Homo sapiens: one gene and its partners. The protein of the gene in region 1 purifies or fractionates together with the protein of each later gene. This does not show direct contact. Each region holds a gene or a part of one and is shown in the gene's direction. Other genes may lie near its edges.

Region 1 (5,163 bases):
GCTTCTGAGGGCAACTTCCTACTCTTTGTGGTATGGTTTCTTCTCTCTTATAATCTTTATTGTAAATGGCTTTTTATTTTGAGCTCAGGAGGATCTTTGGCTTCTAGTTAGAGCAAAGCTTAGAAAATAGAAAAGAAAGGGGCTCTAGCATAATTGAAAGATGTAGAATAAAAATTCAAAATTCTCAAATTTGGTGTGGGGTCTGGCTAATAAAAATCTGAGGCAAAAAGTTTTCTTTCTTTTTCTACCTTAGTTTTCTTTTCTTTTTCTTTCTTTTCTTTTCTTTTTTTTTTTTTTTGAGACGGAGTTTTGCTCTTGTTGCCCAGGCTGGAGTGCAATGGCACGGTCTCGGCTCACCGCAACCTCTGCTTCCCAGGTTCAAGCGTTTCGCCTGCCTCAGCCTTCCTGAGTAGCTGGGATTGCAGACATGTGCCGCCATGCCTGGCTAATTTTGTGTTTTTAGTAGAGACGGGTTTTCTCCATGTTGGTCAGGCTGGTCTCGAACTCCCAACCTCAGGCGATCCGCCCGCCTCGGCCTCTCAAAGTGCTGGGATTTACAGGCATGAGCCACCATGCCCGGCCTATTTGTCCTTCTTTTTAAAAAACTTCTATTATAAAGAAATTTAAGTATGCAAAAGTAGAGAAAATAGTTTAATGAATTCTGATATACCCATCAACCAGTTGAAACAATCAGTTCTTCATCAGTCTTACTTCATATATATGCCCACCCATTCCTTTCACCCCTGTAATTATGTTAAAACAATTTCAGATGTCATTTTATCTGTAACTATTTTAACACTGACCTCTAAAATAAATATATATTTATACATATAACTGTAATGCCATTGCCATAACAACAGCCTTAATATTAATTCCTTAATATTGTAAAATACCATTATCACACCTAAAAACTTAACAGAATTAATTAATATTATTAAATATCATTATCACACCTAAAATAAACAGTACTTACTTGATATTATTTAATATCCAGTCAGTGTTCAATAGTCTTGATTGTTTCATTTTTACAGTAGATTTAATGATCCAAATAAAGTTCATACACTGAAATTTATTATAAGTCTCTCAACTTTTTAATGCCATAGGGTCCCACTCATCTCTTTTTTCCCATTACAGTTATTCATTTGCCCGAGAGTTTAGTTCAGTTTGCTTATCTCTAAAATGGTACATAAAAGTCAACATTTTTGATAAATGGATGATTATGAAAGATCTGTATATTTCATTTGTTAAAAAAAAAAGGATTAGATCTCTTCTAACGCCATTAAGAAATATTCATTCCTCCAAAATCTAAAATAAATGAAAAATCTGTTTTTTTTTTAATGACCTGTGAAGTTTATTTTCCTTATCTGAGAACTTTAGATGTAGGCAGGTCCTTAGAAATAATGTAATTATGTGTTTAAAGTTTGAAAGCTAAAATCTGTGGTAAGAAGTCCGCTAGAGATCCACTAATGCATTATTGAGCCATAATTTGAAAAATACTGTTCTAATCAAATTGCCTTGTTATGTAGATGAGGAAACTGCATCAGAGAAGGATGTGACATGCTCAAGGTAACCCAGAGAATATATATAAGACAGGAGACTGGAACTTCTAACTTTTAGTTAATGCAGGGGCTAGGGATCAGATAGCCCAGATTCAAGTCCTGGTTCTGCATTCATGCGCTTAAGCAAATTATTTTTGTCTCTTTCTTGTGATCTACAAAATAAGGACAATAATATCATCTGCCTCAAAGTGTTAGGATGATTAAATGAAATGTGTAAACTCCTGAGCACAGTGCCTGGCATGTGTTAATTTTTATTAATTATTATTTATTTCATTGTAACAGATAGATACTAGTATATAATACTTTTCCAAAAAAAAAAAAAGAAAAAAAACTGAAAGAGTAACAAATCCCAACTATTTAAATTGCAACATCTTACTTGATTTTGCAATATCTCAGTTTTATCCCCAACCATTTTTTCTCTCCACACCCTAAAAGACAGGATACTTATACCTTGCTTTGAAAATTTTGTTACGTGCTCAGGATAATTGTTAAGATTTAAGAAAAAATATCATTAGGATTAAGAATAAGTGTTATTTCCCTCGTATGTTTTGAAAAATGGTAATATAATTGCTTCTATTTTTCTGATAGAAAAAAGCATTTAGGATTTATTTATTTATTTATTTATTTATTTATTTATTTATTTTTTGAGACAGGGTATCACTCCTTTGGCCCAGGCTGCTGGAGTGTGGTGGCGTGATCTCGACTCATCGCAGGCTCACCTAGGCTCAGGTGATCCTCCCACCTCAGCCTCCCAAGTAGCTGGGACCACAGGTGTGCATCACCATGCTGGGCTGACTTTTTTGTATTTTTCATACAGACTGGATTTTGCTATGTTGCCCTGGTCTGGAACTCCTAGGCTCAAGGGATCCTCCCGCCTCAGCCTTCCAAAGTGCTAAGATTATGGGCATAAGCCACTATACCCAGCCCAGTTTTATTTTTTTCTAATTAAGGATATTTGTGGGGAATCTACCCTAAATGAATGATGAAAATTAATACCTGTGGTATAAAAAATCAAATTATAGCATGAGACTATGAAATTGAATGCAACCATAGAAAATAAGAAACAAACCACAATTTATGGAGGTGTTAAACATTTCTTGGTAGGATTCACCACATTCTTGAAGTGAAATAAGGAATAAGGGAAAGTATTTGAAAATAGCCATAATTGAAGAAAAGGAGATGAATGTGGGCACAGTGAAGATATTTAAGGAGAAAATGACTGTAGGGATTTAAATATTCTCTGTCATGATTCTCTTGCTTCTTATGGTGTAGATGCCTTATTGGAGGAACTGGAACGCTCCACCCTTCAGGACAGTGATGAATATTCCAACCCAGCTCCTCTTCCCCTGGATCAGCATTCCAGAAAGGAGACTAACCTTGATGAGACTTCGGAGATCCTTTCTATTCAGGATAACACAAGTCCCTTGCCGGTAAATTTTCATTTATTATAGTCCTTAAACATGGATGTTTGAGTGCATTTCTGAAAATTAACAGAATCCCACATAAAATAATATGAAAGGAGAATAATATATCCAAGAAAGAGAAAAAATAATGCCTCAATGTTAATCTAAAGATGTTTTTGGAAAGAGGAAGAGAATTGAGAAAATCATCACAGAGGAATGAGTTTTTGAGAACTAAATTTTTTTTATTTTTTTTATTTTTTTTATTTTTTTTTTATTTTTTGAGACAGAGTCACACTCTGTCTCCAAGGCTGGAGTGCAGTGGCACAATCTCGGCTCACTGCAACCTTCACCTCCCAGGTTCAAGCGATTCTCCTGCTTCAGCCTCCCAAATAGCTAGGATTACAGGCACGCACCACCATGCCCAGCTAATTTTTGTATTTTTAGTAGAGACGGGTTTTGTCATGTTGGCCAGGCTGGTCTCAAACTCCTGACCTGAGGTGATTCACCCGCCTTGGCCTCCCAAATTGCTGGGATTACAGGCATGAGCCATCACGCCCAGCCGAGAACTACATTTTTTCTAATGAGCACATGGTCACAGGCAGAGTATTGCATTCACTGGGGATATTCTGATGTTACTGTGGGGGCATCAGAGATGCCTGTTGCAGTTTGACTGGAATGGTACTCAGGCCAGAGATCACCTGAGGAAGGCCAGGTGGCAGCATAGACAAGTCTTCTCAGGGTGACTTTTTAGGGTCACTACTTCCCAGGTCTTATTTTCTGCTGAATAGATTAGGAGATTCAATTATTAGTTTATATAGAGATGATGAAGCTCTAGGGAACCAACTCAAACTAACCAAATTGACAAGTGATTATATATATATTTTAAAAACCTAGGGCAGGTGCAGTGGCTCAGGCCTGTAATTTCAGCACTTTGGAAGGCTGAGGCGGGGGGATCACTTGAAGCCAGGAGTTTGAGACCAGCCTGGGCCATATGGTGAGACCCCCATCTCTACGAAAAATTAAAAAATGAGCAGGGTGTGGTGGTGCGTGCCTATGGTCCCCGCCACTCAGGTGGCTGAAGCAGGAGGATTGCTTAAGCCCAGGTGGTCGAGGCTGCAGTGAGCTATGATTGCGCCACTCCATCCCAGCCTGGGCGACAGAATGAGAGCTTGTCTCAAAAAACAAACAAACAAAAAAAAAACAAAACTCAGAAATCAAATTTACAGTTAAAGCTATCAAGTAAAACAGCTATATTTACTCATATATGCATTCTCTTCCTATGGATAAGTCTATATGGACGTACATTATAATTAAAAGGTTGCTTGATGAGAATGGAATTAGTGTAAGATGAATTAAGTAGATGCTCTTCATAGCTGGTAATTTTGTACTATGATATTTTGATTCATCATTGTTCCCTGTATGAAATAGCCAGAAGCACAGACCTGAAATTTGAGCTCAGGGGTAGTTTACGCCCTAACTGTTCTTTTCTCCAGACACATACACAATTTTAACGATACGAATTTATCTCTCTACTAGGGAACTATTGTCTTTGTTCTCAGTGTTAGATTATAGCTGTAGGCTCCTAAGTGGTCTCCTGCCCTTTGCCCCACTGCAGTCTGTTCTCAAGCAGCCAGGGTCACCTTTAAAAACTAAAGTCAGACCCTGTCATTCTTCTACTCAAAACCCCAAAATGACTCCCATCTCATTTGGAGTAAAAGCCATAGTTTCATGTTGATCTTTCTGGGGTGACCATATATCCTGGTTTACCTGAAAGAGTCCTGGGTTTATGCTTGTTTTTCTCACATCCTATTAACTTTACTTTTTACCCCAGATCTTCAATTTTATTTAAAGTTTTCTTATCAGTATTTGCATTAAGTAAGCCACTATGGCTTAACAGACCTCCTTCCAGCTTCTTCCATGGTCTCATCTAGCAGCGTATGAAACACATATTCAGTGAACAGTGCTCTTTTTTTTTTTTTTGAGATGGAGTCTCTTTCTGTCGTGCAGGCTGGAGTGCAGTGGTGCAATCTTGGCTCACTGCCACCTCTGCCTCCCAGGTTCAAGTGATTCTCCTGCCTCAGCCTCCTGAGTATCTGGGACTACAGGCATGCACCACCATGCGCAGCTAATTTTTGTATTTTTAGTAGAGACAGGATTTCACCATGTTGACTAGGCTGGTCTTGTACTCCTGACCTCAGGTG
Region 2 (4,331 bases), on another chromosome or scaffold:
TCATATTTTACTTCTTACGTTTATAGAAAAAGAACTTTAAAACTTCTAGTAAACATAAGATCAAGTGTTTGTAATAAAGCTTATGAAGGCAAATTGTAAAAATTACATCAGATCCTTTTCTGTCATCGTAATTTAGGCTCTTAGCCCCTCTTGTGTGTATTAGACTCTCCTAGCCCAGGATTACCTACTGTCTTCATTTTTGCTTTGGCTTTATGCAGATTCTTCCTTCCATTTCAGATTGGGCCTCCCTGTTAATGATAATAGGTGCGATTAACAGGAAGGAATATTGAAGTCCTTGCTTTCTGATTTACAGGCATGATTTCATTTTATCCTCACCTGTAGTCCTGTGAGAACTAGTATCCTCATTTTAGAGATGAGAAAGCTTAAGTGTCTTGGCCAAGGCCATGCATTCATTTGCTCAGTAAATATTTATTGGGGATCTGTTTTGACAAGGCCACAAGGCTGGTGGTGAGGCAAGGTCTTTTACTCCCAAGCCTGGGGTCATCACCACATTTAACATTGTAGCTTATGTGGTAGGAAGGAAATTAAATACTCTTGCCATTTGCATGTCTTCCTGTTTCCTGCCTTTAGAATTGTACTGGGAGAGATTCCATGTGTTTGTATACTTAGTTTCTTACTGACTGATGCTACCTGACCTCAGGATTCAGTTATCACCTCTCTGGATTAGCTGCCCCAGTATGGCTTTGTACGTTTATTTTATTTTGCTGGGGATGTCATAACAAAATACCACAGACTGGATGGCTTAAGCCACAGAAATTTATTTTCTCAAATCTGGAAGCCAGAAGTCTGAAATGAGGGTGTTAGCAGATTTACTTTCTCCTGAGATCTCTTTTTTGTCTTGCAGATGGCTGCCTTCTCTGTGTCTTCCCTCTGTGTGTGTGTCCTCATCTCCTCCTCTTACAAGAACGCCAGTCATGTTGGATTAGGGCCCACCCTAATGACTTCATCTTACGTTAATTACCTCTTTAACTTCATTATCCTGTCTCCAGGTGCAGTCACATTTGAGGTTTTGGGGTTAGGGCTTCAACATATTAATTTTGTGTGTTTTGTGCGGGCACAGTTCAGCCTATAACAACATCCTTATTCTTCAGTTCATCTGCTCTACCTTTACCTCCTCCAGTGACTTTCCTAAGACTGTTTGATTTCCATGTATCAATTCACTTGTCTTTACCTCAGATTATTCTGTCTACTCATTACAGTAATCCAGAGAAGAATTTTTCTTCTTTTATCTTTCAAACATGAACAGATTTTCTTTTTATTTATTTATTTATTTATTTATTGATCATTCTTGGGTGTTTCTCGCAGAGGGGGATTTGGCAGGGTCACAGGACAATAGTGGAGGGAAGGTCAGCAGATAAACAAGTGAACAAAGGTCTCTGGTTTTCCTAGGCAGAGGACCCTGCGGCCTTCCGCAGTGTTTGTGTCCCTGGGTACTTGAGATTAGGGAGTGGTGATGACTCTGAACGAGCATGCTGCCTTCAAGCGTCTGTTTAACAAAGCACATCTTGCACCGCCCTTAATCCATTTAACCCTGAGTGGACACAGCACATGTTTCAGAGAGCACAGGGTTGGGGGTAAGGTCACAGATCAACAGGATCCCAAGGCAGAAGAATTTTTCTTAGTACAGAACAAAATTAAAAGTCTCCCATGTCTACCTCTTTCTACACAGACACGGCAACCATCCGATTTCTCAATCTTTTCCCCACCTTTCCCCCCTTTCTATTCCACAAAACCACCATTGTCATCATGGCCCATTCTCAATGAGCTGTTGGGTACACCTCCCAGACGGGGTGGTGGCCGGGCAGAGGGGCTCCTCACTTCCCAGTAGGGGCGGCCGGGCAGAGGCGCCCCTCACCTCCTGGATGGGGCGGCTGGCCGGGCGGGGGGCTGACCCCCCCAACCTCCCTCCCAGACGGGGCGGCTGGCCGGGCCGAGGAGCTCCTCACTTCCCAGTAGGGGCGGCCGGGCAGAGGCGCCCCTCACCTCCTGGACGGGGCGGCTGGCCGGGCGGGGGGCTGACCCCCCCACCTCCCTCCCGGAGGGGGTGGCTGGCCGGGCGGTGGGGCTGACCCCCCCACCTCCCTCCTGGACGGGGCGGCTGGCTGGGCGGGGGGCTGACCCCCCTACCTCCCTCCCGGACGGGGCGGCTGGCTGGGCAGAGGGGCTCCTCACTTCCCAGTAGGGGCGGCCGGGCAGAGGCGCCCCTCACCTCCCGGATGGGGCGGCTGGCCGGGCGGGGGGCTGACCCCCCCCACCTCCCTCCCGGACGGGGCGGCTGGCCAGGCGGGGGGCTGACCCCCCCCACCTCCCTCCCGGACGGGGCGGCTGGCCGGGCAGAGGGGCTCCTCACTTCCCAGTAGGGGCGGCCGGGCAGAGGCGCCCCTCACCTCCCAGATGGGGCGCTGGCCGGGCGGGGGGCTGACCCCCCAACCTCCCGGACGGGGCGGCTGGCTGGGCAGGGGGCTGACCCCCCCACCTCCCTCCCGGACGGGGCGGCTGGCCAGGCAGAGGGGCTCCTCACTTCCCAGTAGGGGCGGCCGGGCAGAGGCGCCCCTCGCCTCCCGGACGGGGCGGCTGGCCGGGCGGGGGGCTGATCCCCCCACCTCCCTCCCGGACGGGGCGGCTGGCCAGGCGGGGGGCTGACCCCCCCATCTCCCTCCTGGACGGGGTGGCTGCCCGGCAGAGATGCTCCTCACTTCCCAGACGGGGTGGCTGCCGGGCGGAGGGGCTCCTCACTTCTCAGACGGGGCGGCTGCTGGGCGGAGGGGCTCCTCACTTCTCAGACAGGGCGGTTGCCAGGCAGAGGGTCTCCTCACTTCTCAGATGGTGCGGCCGGGCAGAGACGCTCCTCACATCCCGGACGGGGCGACAGGGCAGAGGCGCTCCCCACATCTCAGATGATGGGCGGCCGGGCAGAGACGCTCCTCACTTCCTAGATGGGATGGCGGCCGGGAAGAGGCGCTCCTCACTTCCTAGATGGGATGGCGGCTGGGCAGAGACGCTCCTCACTTTCCAGACTGGGCAGCCAGGCAGAGGGGCTCCTCACATCCCAGACGATGGGCGGCCAGGCAGAGACGCTCCTCACTTCCCAGACGGGGTGGGGCCGGGCAGAGGCTGCAATCTCGGCACTTTGGGAGGCCAAGGCAGGCTGCTGGGAGGTGGATGTTGTAGCAAGTCGAGATCACGCCACTGCACTCCAGCCTGGGCACCATTGAGCAATGAGTGAAGGAGACTCCGTCTGCAATCCCGGCACCTCGGGAGGCCGAGGCTGGCAGATCACTCGCGGTTAGGAGCTGGAGACCAGCCCGGCCAACACAGCGAAACCCCGTCTCCACCCAAAAAATACGAAAACCAGTCAGGCGTGGCGGCGCGCGCCTGCAATCGCAGGCACTCGGCAGGCTGAGGCAGGAGAATCAGGCAGGGAGGTTGCAGTGAGCCGAGATGGCAGCAGTACAGTCCAGCTTCGGCTCGGCATCAGAGGGAGACCGTGGAAAGAGGGGAGAGGGGAGAGGGAGAGCCAGATTTTCTTTTTTATAAGGATTTTTGATTTAGATAAGGATGTGGTACCACTTGCAGAACTAGGGAAAGGAATTAATGTTGGGGAAAAAAGTTACCCCAGCCAGGTGCGATGGTGCACGCCTGTAATCCCAGCACTTTAGGAGGCCAAGGTGGGCAGATCACTTGAGCCTAGGAGTTCAAGACCAGCTTGGGCAACATGCCCAATGTGGTGAAACCCCGTCTCTACAAAAAATACAAAAATTAGCTGGGTATGGTGGCGTGTGCTTGTAGTCCTAGCTACTCGGGTGGCTGAGGTGGGAGGATCACCTGAGCCTGGGAGGTAGAGTTGCCGTGAGCTGTGATGGCACAACTGCACTCTAGCCTGGGTGACAGAGCCTCAAAAAAAAAAAAAAAGTTATGCCATCTTTTTCCATTTTTGGCCTCCGTATACAGTTGTTTATCCCAGTCTGGTTACTCTTGCCTTTGATATCTGTCACAGATTTCTTGCCTCTTCTCTGTTCTTACTGCCGCCCCTGAATGTGGGACCTCTTTTACCTCATTGATCTACCTGCCCACATTCCTCCTCTGCTGCTCTGCTTTCTTCCTTATGTATTCCACTTAGAATCTGTATTAGTCCATTCTCATGCTGCTGTAAAGAACTGCCCCAGACTGAGTAATTCATAAAGAAAAGAGGTTTAATTTACTCACAGGTCCACAGAGATGGGGAGGCCTCTGGAAACTTAGAATTATGGTGGAAGGGGTAGCAGGCACATTCTTCTCCACATAGTGGCAGGAAGGAGGAGAATGAGAGC
Region 3 (4,331 bases), on another chromosome or scaffold:
GGAAGGGTGACACAAGCACTGCCATGGCCACCGTCACTGGAACTGTACTTGGTCTCACCCAAGGCCTGTGGCAGCTATTTTCTGGCCACCACTGATGTTAATTTAAGGCCCAAGGGTGCTTTAGTCAGTAGGTGAAGAATCCTGCAAGAACTGGGTCTTTACTTTCAGTGCAGCAGGTTCCCTTCTGGCCCAGGGTGTGTCTAGAAATGCTGCCCAGGAGCCAGGGCCTGGGATCGGGAGCTTTAGGAATCTGCTTTATTGTACTGGGGCTGAGCTGGCACCCACTTGCAAGATAAAGTCCTTTTTACTCTTCTCTCACCTCAAGCAGGTGGGTCTCCCCATGGACACCACAGCTGTGAATGTGCGGGGTCATATCTGAAGCTGGCACAATACGACATGGCACCTTGTTTTTTATTCAAGGCACAAGGGCTCTTTAGTCAGCTGGTGGTGAATCCTACTAGGACTAGGTATTTCCCTTCAAGGCAATGGGTTCCCTTCTGGTCCAGAATATGTCTAGAAATGTCATCTGGGAGCTATGGCCTAGAATTGAGGCTTCAGAACTATGCTTGGTGCTTTATTTTACTGTGGCTGAACTAGTATCCACATTGCAAGACAAAGTCCTCCCTACTCTTCCCTCTCCTCCCAGAGCTGTGAGCTGTGGTACCTGGAGTTGGGGGAAGGCTGGCACAAGCACTCCCTTGGCCACCCTAGCTGGTGTCTCAGTGGGTCACATGTACCCCAAGTCCACTGACTATGAGCCCAGCACAGTACCATGACTTGTCCAGGAATTGCAGTCCTTCTGGTCTAGACTGCCTTTCAAGTTTATTTAGGACCCCAGAGGACTTTACCCACGGTGGTGGGGCTTACCAAAATTAAGATTCTTTTGGTTTTTTTTGGCAGAGTTTCGCTCTTATTGCCCAGGCTGGAGTATAGTGACGCAATCTCAGCTCACCACAACCTCCGCCTCCCGGGTTCAAATAATTCTCCTACCTCAGCCTCCTGAGTAGCTGGGATTACCGGCATGCGCTACCACCTCTGGCTAATTTTTTTGTTTTTTAGTAGAGATGAGGTTTCTCCATGTTGGTCAGGCTGGTCTTGAACTCCCGACCTCAGGTTATCCGTCCGCCTCGGCCTCCCAAAGTGCTGGGATTACAGACCATAGTGCCCAGCCCGAAATTCAGATTCTAATCACTGGGATGGACAATTCCCCTCTGACTAGGGCTAGTCTAAATACTCCCTCTGTGGGTGCTGGCTGAATTCTGTCCTATGCTGCTTTCCACTGTGACAGGGCAGCACTGAGTTTCAATGCAAAATCCCACAGTCATTTCTCTCTCTCTCCCCCGAGCACACAGATTCTTTCTCCACCCCACACTGCATTGTGGGGGAATGTCAGGGGTGTTGGAGGGGCAGTTCAAGACTATCTTCCTTATCTTTTTTGGTGTCTTTTTCCTTGATAGGATGTCAAAACTGGGTACTGTGATCGCTTACCTAATTTTTGGTTCTTATGAAGGTGCTTTCTTGTGTGGATAGTTGTTCAATTTGGTGCTCCTTGTTGGGGATGATCACTGGAAGGTTCTGTTTGGCCACCATGCTCTGTCTCTTCTCCCCTGCCATCTCCTTTTTTTACTTAGGGGTTTAGAATGTCTAACTGACCAATATGTACAGTCAGGTCTCATTCTGAATTCACCTACTTAATGACCTTCCAAGCTGACTAGGCCCAGCGCTTAGTCCAGCCTCCATGACGGTCCCTCCACATCCTAATTAGCCTCCCTCCAGTTCATTTCACACAAAGCTGCTGTGTTCACCTTTCTGAACTATAAATCTGCCCAGTACTCTACCCTACTTAAAATTCCGTATAGACTGCCCATTTGCCCTGAGAATTAAAAGCCAAAGTCCTAAACGTAGCTTTTTAAAACTTTTTTTTTTTTTTTTTTAATTTTTAGATGGAGTCTTGCTCTGTCACCCAGGCTGGAGTGCAGTGGTGTGATCTTGGCTCACTGCAACCTCCGCCTCCTGGGTTCAAGCAATTCTCATATGTCAGCCTCCCAAGTAGCTGGGATTTACACGTGTGCCATCACGCCTGGCTAATTTTTTTTTTTTATCTTTAGTAGAGACGGAGTTTCACCATGTTGGCCAGTCTGGTCTTAAACTCCTGACCTCAAGTGATCCACCTGCCTTGGCTTCCCAAAGTGCTAGGATGATAGGTGTTAGCCACTGCACGCAGCCCTGAACATAGCTTTTAAGTTCCTTTATTGTCATATTCCTTTTGACGAGTCTATCATTTTCTGACTCACTTGTACATGTGTGTCTCACCCTTGGTCCAGCCATTGGTGCTTTTCTTTACTTCTTTATTTTTGTTATTTTATTTTATTTTATTATTATTTTTTAAATGAGACAGGGTATCACTATGTTGCCCAGGCTGGTCTTGAACTCCTGAGCTTAAGCAGTCTGCTTGTCTCAGCCTCCCAAAGGGCTGGAATTACAGTGATGAGCTACTGTGCCCAGCTCATTGGTGCTATCTTTTTTTTTTTTTTTGAGACGGAGTCTCGCTCTGTCACCCAGGCTGGAGTGCAGTGGCGTGATCTTGGCTCACTGCAGCTCCACTTCCCAGGTTCACACCATTCTCCTACCTCAGCCTCCCGAGTAGCAGGGACTATAGGCGCCTGCCACCATGCCTGGCTAATTTTTGTATTTTTAGTAGAGATGGGGTTTCAGCGTGTGAGCCAAGATGGTCTCGATCTCCTGACCTCGTGATCCGCCTGCCTTGGCCTCCCAAAGTGCTGGGATTACAGGCGTGAGCCACCGTGCCCGGCCCCCATTGGTGCTATTGTTTTATGTGATAGAGCCAGCTTCTCCCTTTTCTTTGGATTTTTAAACATACTCTTCCTTTTACTTAGACTATTCTCCATCCCAACACCTTTCCTAAACTTCTTTCACACCTTAGACTAGCTGACACTTTACTGAGAAACCTTTCTTTTTTATAGGTTGCTTTTTCTATAGACTCTCTTAGCATTTACTCATTTTATTGTGAAGTGTCTGATCTTATTTAAATGACAAGTATAAGAGGATAGAAACTATTTCATATTTTTCTCACCCAGCAGGCACAATTTCTGACATGTGGTAAGCACTCAGTAAATATTGAACTTTAGAGGCTAGGACATTTGAGTGCTTTGGTGACTGTGGTTGTGCTATATAGGTACTCTGTTATTGTTAGTTTATAGTAAAAGCATTACTCTTAAAGTATGAAAAAAGCCTTATTCAGAACATTTCATGCGTATAGTTAATATTACGTAGCTTGTGCTCATGGCAAAAATGTATTACTAAAGTTATTTAAGATATTTAAGTATAATTGTTTCCTTTATTTAGTTACAGCCAAGTTCTACTTCTGAATCTATGGATCAACTACTAAACAAAAATAGAGAGGGAGAAAAATCAAGAGATTTGATCAAAGACAAAATTGAACCAAGTGCTAAGGATTCTTTCATTGAAAATAGCAGCAGCAACTGTACCAGTGGCAGCAGCAAGCCGAATAGCCCCAGCATTTCCCCTTCAATACTTAGTAACACGGAGCACAAGAGGGGACCTGAGGTCACTTCCCAAGGGGTTCAGACTTCCAGCCCAGCATGTAAACAAGAGAAAGACGATAAGGAAGAGAAGAAAGACGCAGCTGAGTGAGTAAACCTGGAACTTAGACCATCCTGTTACTCAATTAACTTTTTTTTTTTTAAAGGCATTTAGGTCCTTCCAACTGTGAAGAATCCATCTGGACTTTTAGACTACTTTATACATTGCCCTTAGTTTACAAACAGCTAGTCCAAACAAATGACATCTTAAGTAAATGAGGTTATTGCACCCTGTGCTACTCTTCTGTTCTTCCCCTTTTTTGTACCCCAGGGCTAGAAAAACAAGGCATAAATTAAGAAAAGTTTTTCTGTAAATGAACAGGAGTTGAAAAATTATCAATTCAGGGGACCTATCTTTACTGGATTCCACTCATTAGTCACCCTCACTGTGCTGCTAGGTTGAAAAACTGCCACTGTCAAGGAGAGAAGCATGCGGTGCTTCTACTTGGAATTCAAAATATTTTTCATCAGAAACTGTGTTTTAGTTAATGTTTAGATTTGTTAAGATAGACTTAATTCTGCACATTCAGTATATTAATTAAATGGACTTTTAGGGGCTAACCTCAGAACTTAACTACCATTGACTTAGGTGTTTGGGTACCAAACAATCCAGTTAAAGCTGAAGTTTTGGAATGCAGCTTATTGATAAATTGGGGACTGCTTATTCTTGATTTGAGGCAATTTTTTTTTACAGCCATGACTTTTTCC
Region 4 (4,975 bases), on another chromosome or scaffold:
CTAATATCCAAAGAAAGGGGCTCTAGGGGTGATGGTGGGTATTATAGTCCCAGCTACCTGGGAGGCTGAGGCAGAAGGACTGCTTGAGCCTAGGAGTTCTGGGCTGCAATGAGCTATGATTGCCACTGCATTCTAGCTTAGGCAACAGAGCAAGATCTTATCTCTTAAAAGAAAACAACAACAACAACAAAAGTTGTAACTTGCCCAAGTCACATAGCTAAAAAGTGGAAGAGACATAACTGAAACTCAAGCCTCCTAAATTCCTAATGTAGGGTTCAGTCCACCTCTACCACCCTCCCACAGACTGCCAAGGGGTCCTGCTCAGAGTTGGGCAATGGTGAGATGCACTCTATGGCCCCAAACTCATTGAAAGTAACAACTGAGCTGAAAAAAATGTGGAGTCTCTTCTGCCCTCTACAGAAGTAACCAGCTATAGGGGAGAGCATGCTCCTCCCATTCCACTCTCCATGGTGCGTCTCTTTTCACTATATAACAAAGTTATATTAAATGAGTTCTGGGCCGAGGTGCGGTGGCTCATCCCTGTAATCCCAGCACTTTGGGAGGCCGAGGCAGGAGGATTTCTTGAGTCCAGGAGTTTGAGACCCCACCTCTACTAAAAAAAAAAAAAAATTTTTTTTTTTTTTTTTGCTGGGTATAGTAGCATGTGCCTATAGTCCCAGCTGTTCATGAGGCTGAGATGGGAGGATTGCTTGAGCCCAGGAGTTCAAGTTACAGTGAGCTATGATTGTGCCACTGCAATCCAGCCTGGAGAACAGAACAAGAAGAACCTATGTCCAAAAAAAAAAAAAAAAAAAAAGTGAATGAATGAATTAATGTCTTCTTAGCAAAATCCAGAGAACGTGTTTTTGGGCTTCCTTATGCAACTTCTGGAATGTTGAAGTGGATAGCCTGAGCATTGTCCCACAAAATGGGGCTAATCTATCCCAATCCCCACGAGCTATAAAGCTGTTTGCAAGTTCAGCCATTGAAGTCCCATTGGCCCAGTTAAATTCTCACGTTTGGCCTCCTGCACTACCAGCTTTCCTTAGTGTCTGGGCTCTCAAAACTTCTACGTGAGAATGGCCTGGGGTACTTTAGTTAGAGATTCAGATTCAAACCCAGGGTGGGGGTGTTCTTCATGGTGCCTGGGATGAGTCTTCCAAGGACCATTTGGAGAAACAGGCGCTGATGGTATTTTGCTTCTGTTCAGTCCTTCACTGACAGAGAGCCTGCAGGGTTGAGGAAGAAGGCTCTGTTTTGAAGTGTGGATCCCTCCCTGCAATGGTCTCTATTTGCATCTTCTTTACTCCAGGCTCACCTAGCCAAATGTTGAGTTTTCCAACCCCTCTGGGTATGAGATTGCTTTGGGCGATCTGAGATCTGCAAATGTCTGAGAACGAGGAGCACATGGGCACGCTGATGACTGCCCTGCAAACTGCCTGGCAGCCAGGGTCCTCCTGGGCCCTCCTTTAAAATAACATATACATAAGCCGGCCTGGAGGCCCAGGCGGGAAGATCACTTGAGCTCCGGAGTTCGAGTCCAGCCTGGGCAACATAGCGAGACCAGAAAATAAGCAAGTAAGTTACTCTCTGGGCTGTCGTAACTTATTTTTTCTTTTTCTCCTGCAAATTGCAACTCAGAACATTTGGTCTGCCAGACTGAAATATGGACTTCTGTTCCAAATATCCAGACGTTACAGTTCCCACAGGTGGCCAGGAGAATGCTGGAACCTTTGGCGGAGACGGTCTGGTCTTGTCCCGCAGCCCGCGAGGGTCCCCCGCTATTTGGGGTCAAGCAGATCCCCGGGGCGCTCTGGCCACCCCTTGCGGCAGCTGGTGCGGCCTCCTCGGAGAGCTCCGGGCCGGCGCCCGGGACACCCCGCCGCCCTCCCTGCCGCCCCAGGGACGAGCCCAGCGGTGCGGAGAAGTGGGAGGCTGGAGCCTGCTGAGGTCATTTCCTGTGCCTCTCCGCGAGCTGCCTGGAGAGCTGAGCCCAGCGCTCTGCCTTTAAGGAGCGGGCGGGGAGCCGAGGGGAGGAGGGCGCCCGGCGGAGCGTTGAATGGGGCGCAGCAAGGCTCGGCCGGGCTTTGTGCAGCGAGCCCGCGGGCACCCCTCCCGCTCCAGCCTCGCCCCGCCCCGCAGCCCACGACCCCTGCTGCCGGGGAGGGGAGAACCGGCGGCAGCCCGGGACTCCGGCGAGAGCGACGCAAGGTCGGCTGCGGCGGCGGCCCGAGGGCGCCCGTGTGCCCAGTGCGCGGCGGGGACGGCCGCGAGCTCGCTGGAGGTGAGCGACCCGCGCTCCCGCCGCTGTGGTGGGCTGGGGCTGCGCCGCGGCGGAGGGCGTCAGGCTGCGCGCGGGGGACGGCCCCTCGGGCCCAGAGGACGATCCGGAGCAGGTGCCTCCCTACCTGGAAGCGAGCTCCCAGCGGCGGGGAGCGCTGGAGCGCGGGTCTGGCTTGGGAAGCCGGGCGCCCCAGGGGACTCGCGCCGCGAGGCCAGGAGGAGCCTCCCCCGGGAGTACCTGGACTTGGGGATCGGTCAGATCCAGCCGCTCCTGGGAAGGGCCCTCGGAGCGGACGTGCAGGCTGCCACCTTGCTATCGGTGCTCGCTCCCTTTCACCCCTTCCCGCACCCCTCCCCATCTCACCTCAGGTTATTTCTTCTGTGATTTCTGAGTGTTGTCTTTGGGACCCTATGGCTCAGGCTCGACTCCTAGGAGCAGGTCATTCAAGCAGAAAAGAAAACAGGTTGGGCGCCGAATGACACAGAGCATTGTGTCCTAGGAGTCTTAGCGAGGACTCGGTCACCAGGAACCAGGGGCCTTAGTGGGGGTGGCAGAGGCGGTGAAGAGCCTCATCTGGAAGGAAACTCCTCTCCTTGTGGGATTTCTGCTTGCCAGGATATCTCCTCCATAGCTTTTACTATGAATCCACCTCATAAAACTCTTCCAAGACAGAGCCTTGGTTCAGGTAAAACACTTGAAAGACCATTTAAAAAATTCAGTGGGAGAATTATCAGTTCCTTCATCAAACTGTTTGGACTGTCTTCTATGTGACAGACACTGTGTATAGGGCTAGTACCATCACTGAACGCTTTATAGAACATCGGTATTAGTGTTTCTGCATATTATTGGCCCCATTTTTCCAAAGGAGGAAGCTGGGACTCTGAAAAGTTGTGATTTAGGCCAGTTGCAGTGGCTTATGCCTGTAATCCCAGCACTTTGGGAAGCCAAGGCAGGAGGAGAGCTTGATGCCAGGAGTTCAAGACCAGCCTGGGCAACATAGGGAGACCCTGTGTCTACAAATAAATAAAAATTTAAAAATTAGCTGGGTGTGGTGGTGTGGGCCTGTAGTCCCAGCTAACTTGGGAGGCTGATGATCCTGTCTGTTAAAAAAAAAATTGTTGTGATATGCCCATGGTCACATAGCTAAAAAGTGGAAGAGCCATAACTGAAACCCAAGCCTCCTAAATTCCTAACGTATGGTTCAGTCCACTTCTACCACCTTCCCATAGACTGCTGAGGGGGCCTGCTCAGAGTTGGGCAATTGTGGGGTGCAGCCTGTGGCCCCAAACTCATTGAAACTAACAACTAAGCTGAAAAAATGTGGAGCCTCTTCTGCCCTCTTCAGAAGTCACCAGCTGTAGGGGAGAGCATGTTCCTCCCATTCCTGATAGAAAAAAAAAAATCCAAAGAAATGTCTGGCAATTTAAAGTGTACATCATTTACCCCTAAATTCCATTTTCTGGGACTTTATCCTTCAGATATACTCTGATGTATATGAAATGGTGTACATCATTGAATATTCATTGCAGCATTGTTTAGCAAAAGGTTGGAAACAATCTAGATGTCCATCAATAAGGAACCCTTCAATAAGATCATGTAAAAGCCACACGATAGGATACATTAAAGCTGTTATAAAGCGTGCAGAGAAAATGTGGCAGATATATACTTTGATGTAGGAATATCTCTAAGTTATATTGTTGAGTACAGTGTGTATGGTGGGCCACGATTTTTGGGTGGGTGTGTGAATGCCACATACATATGAATGCCTGTAGATGCTCTGAATATCTCTGAGAGAACACACAGAAACCTGTAACAGTGGTTGCCGCTGGGGAGAACTATGGCTGAAGTACAGGCATGGGAAGAAGCCTTACTTTGCACTATATACCCTTTTGTTCAATGTTCTAAAATAACTTTAAAAATCATATGACCTCCTCTCCAGATCTCCAGAGTTAGATCTGGTAGTGAGCACATCTTTTTTTTTTTTTTTTTTTTTTTTTTTTGAGCCAGAGTCTCGCTCTGTTGCCCAGGCTGGAGTGCAGTGGTGCAATCTCAGCTCACTACAACCTCCGCCTCCAGGGTTCAAGCAGTTCACCTGCCTTAGCCTCCCAAGTGGCTGGGATTAACAGGCATGCGCCACCACACCTGGCTAATTTTTGTATTTTTAGTAGAGACAGGGTTTCACCATGTTGGCCAGTCTGGTTGAACTCCTGACCTCAGGTAAGCCGCCTGCCTCCACCTCCCAAAGTGCTGGGATTACAGGCTTGAGCCACCGTGCCCAGCCTCGTGAGCACATCTTTGGGCCACATCTCCTTTTATGTTCTAGATGCTATTGGTTTGCCTTTGTTTGCTGATTACAACAATAACAGTCATTTATTGAGTACTTAGTGTGCACCAGGCTTTTGTAATATCTCCTTTAATTCTCAAAAAGCCCTGCATGATGTGATATATGAAATGGCCATTTTGAAGGTTGGAAAATGGTTAAATGACGGTTTCATATGGTTCAACCAAATATTATTGTCCTGATTTTCAAATATTACTGCCCTCAATTTCAGAATGGAACTGAGTCTCAAAGAAGTTAAGCAAATGGCTTAAGGCCACAGGATTATTTAGTGCCTGAGCTCGTATTCAAACCCAGGCCTGTCAGTGCCAGAGCATGGGATCTTAGGTACTAAGCTGTTTCTCTTTGCTGTT

The links. The genes of interacting proteins can lie anywhere in the genome.
Region 2: the proteins of LPXN (region 1) and SPECC1L purify together in Homo sapiens (co-immunoprecipitation; 3 studies listed by BioGRID and IntAct, with this or other methods). This does not show direct contact.
Region 3: the proteins of LPXN (region 1) and ATXN2 purify together in Homo sapiens (co-immunoprecipitation; 3 studies listed by BioGRID and IntAct, with this or other methods). This does not show direct contact.
Region 4: the proteins of LPXN (region 1) and PLEKHH1 purify together in Homo sapiens (co-immunoprecipitation; 3 studies listed by BioGRID and IntAct, with this or other methods). This does not show direct contact.

What each region holds. Positions count from the first base shown.
Region 1 is NC_000011.10:58,568,382-58,573,544, reverse strand, and holds part of LPXN (leupaxin), read left to right. Parts: intron 1-2,831; coding exon 2,832-2,989; intron 2,990-5,163. UniProt on the Homo sapiens protein: Transcriptional coactivator for androgen receptor (AR) and serum response factor (SRF). Contributes to the regulation of cell adhesion, spreading and cell migration and acts as a negative regulator in integrin-mediated cell adhesion events.
Region 2 is NC_000022.11:24,315,000-24,319,330, forward strand, and holds part of SPECC1L (cytospin-A), read left to right. Parts: intron 1-4,331. UniProt on the Homo sapiens protein: Involved in cytokinesis and spindle organization. May play a role in actin cytoskeleton organization and microtubule stabilization and hence required for proper cell adhesion and migration.
Region 3 is NC_000012.12:111,487,816-111,492,146, reverse strand, and holds part of ATXN2 (ataxin-2), read left to right. Parts: intron 1-3,366; coding exon 3,367-3,671; intron 3,672-4,331. UniProt on the Homo sapiens protein: Involved in EGFR trafficking, acting as negative regulator of endocytic EGFR internalization at the plasma membrane.
Region 4 is NC_000014.9:67,531,115-67,536,089, forward strand, and holds the start of PLEKHH1 (pleckstrin homology domain-containing family H member 1), read left to right. Parts: upstream 1-2,175; 5' UTR 2,176-2,284; intron 2,285-2,521; exon of another isoform or gene 2,522-2,595; intron 2,596-2,647; exon of another isoform or gene 2,648-2,736; intron 2,737-4,975.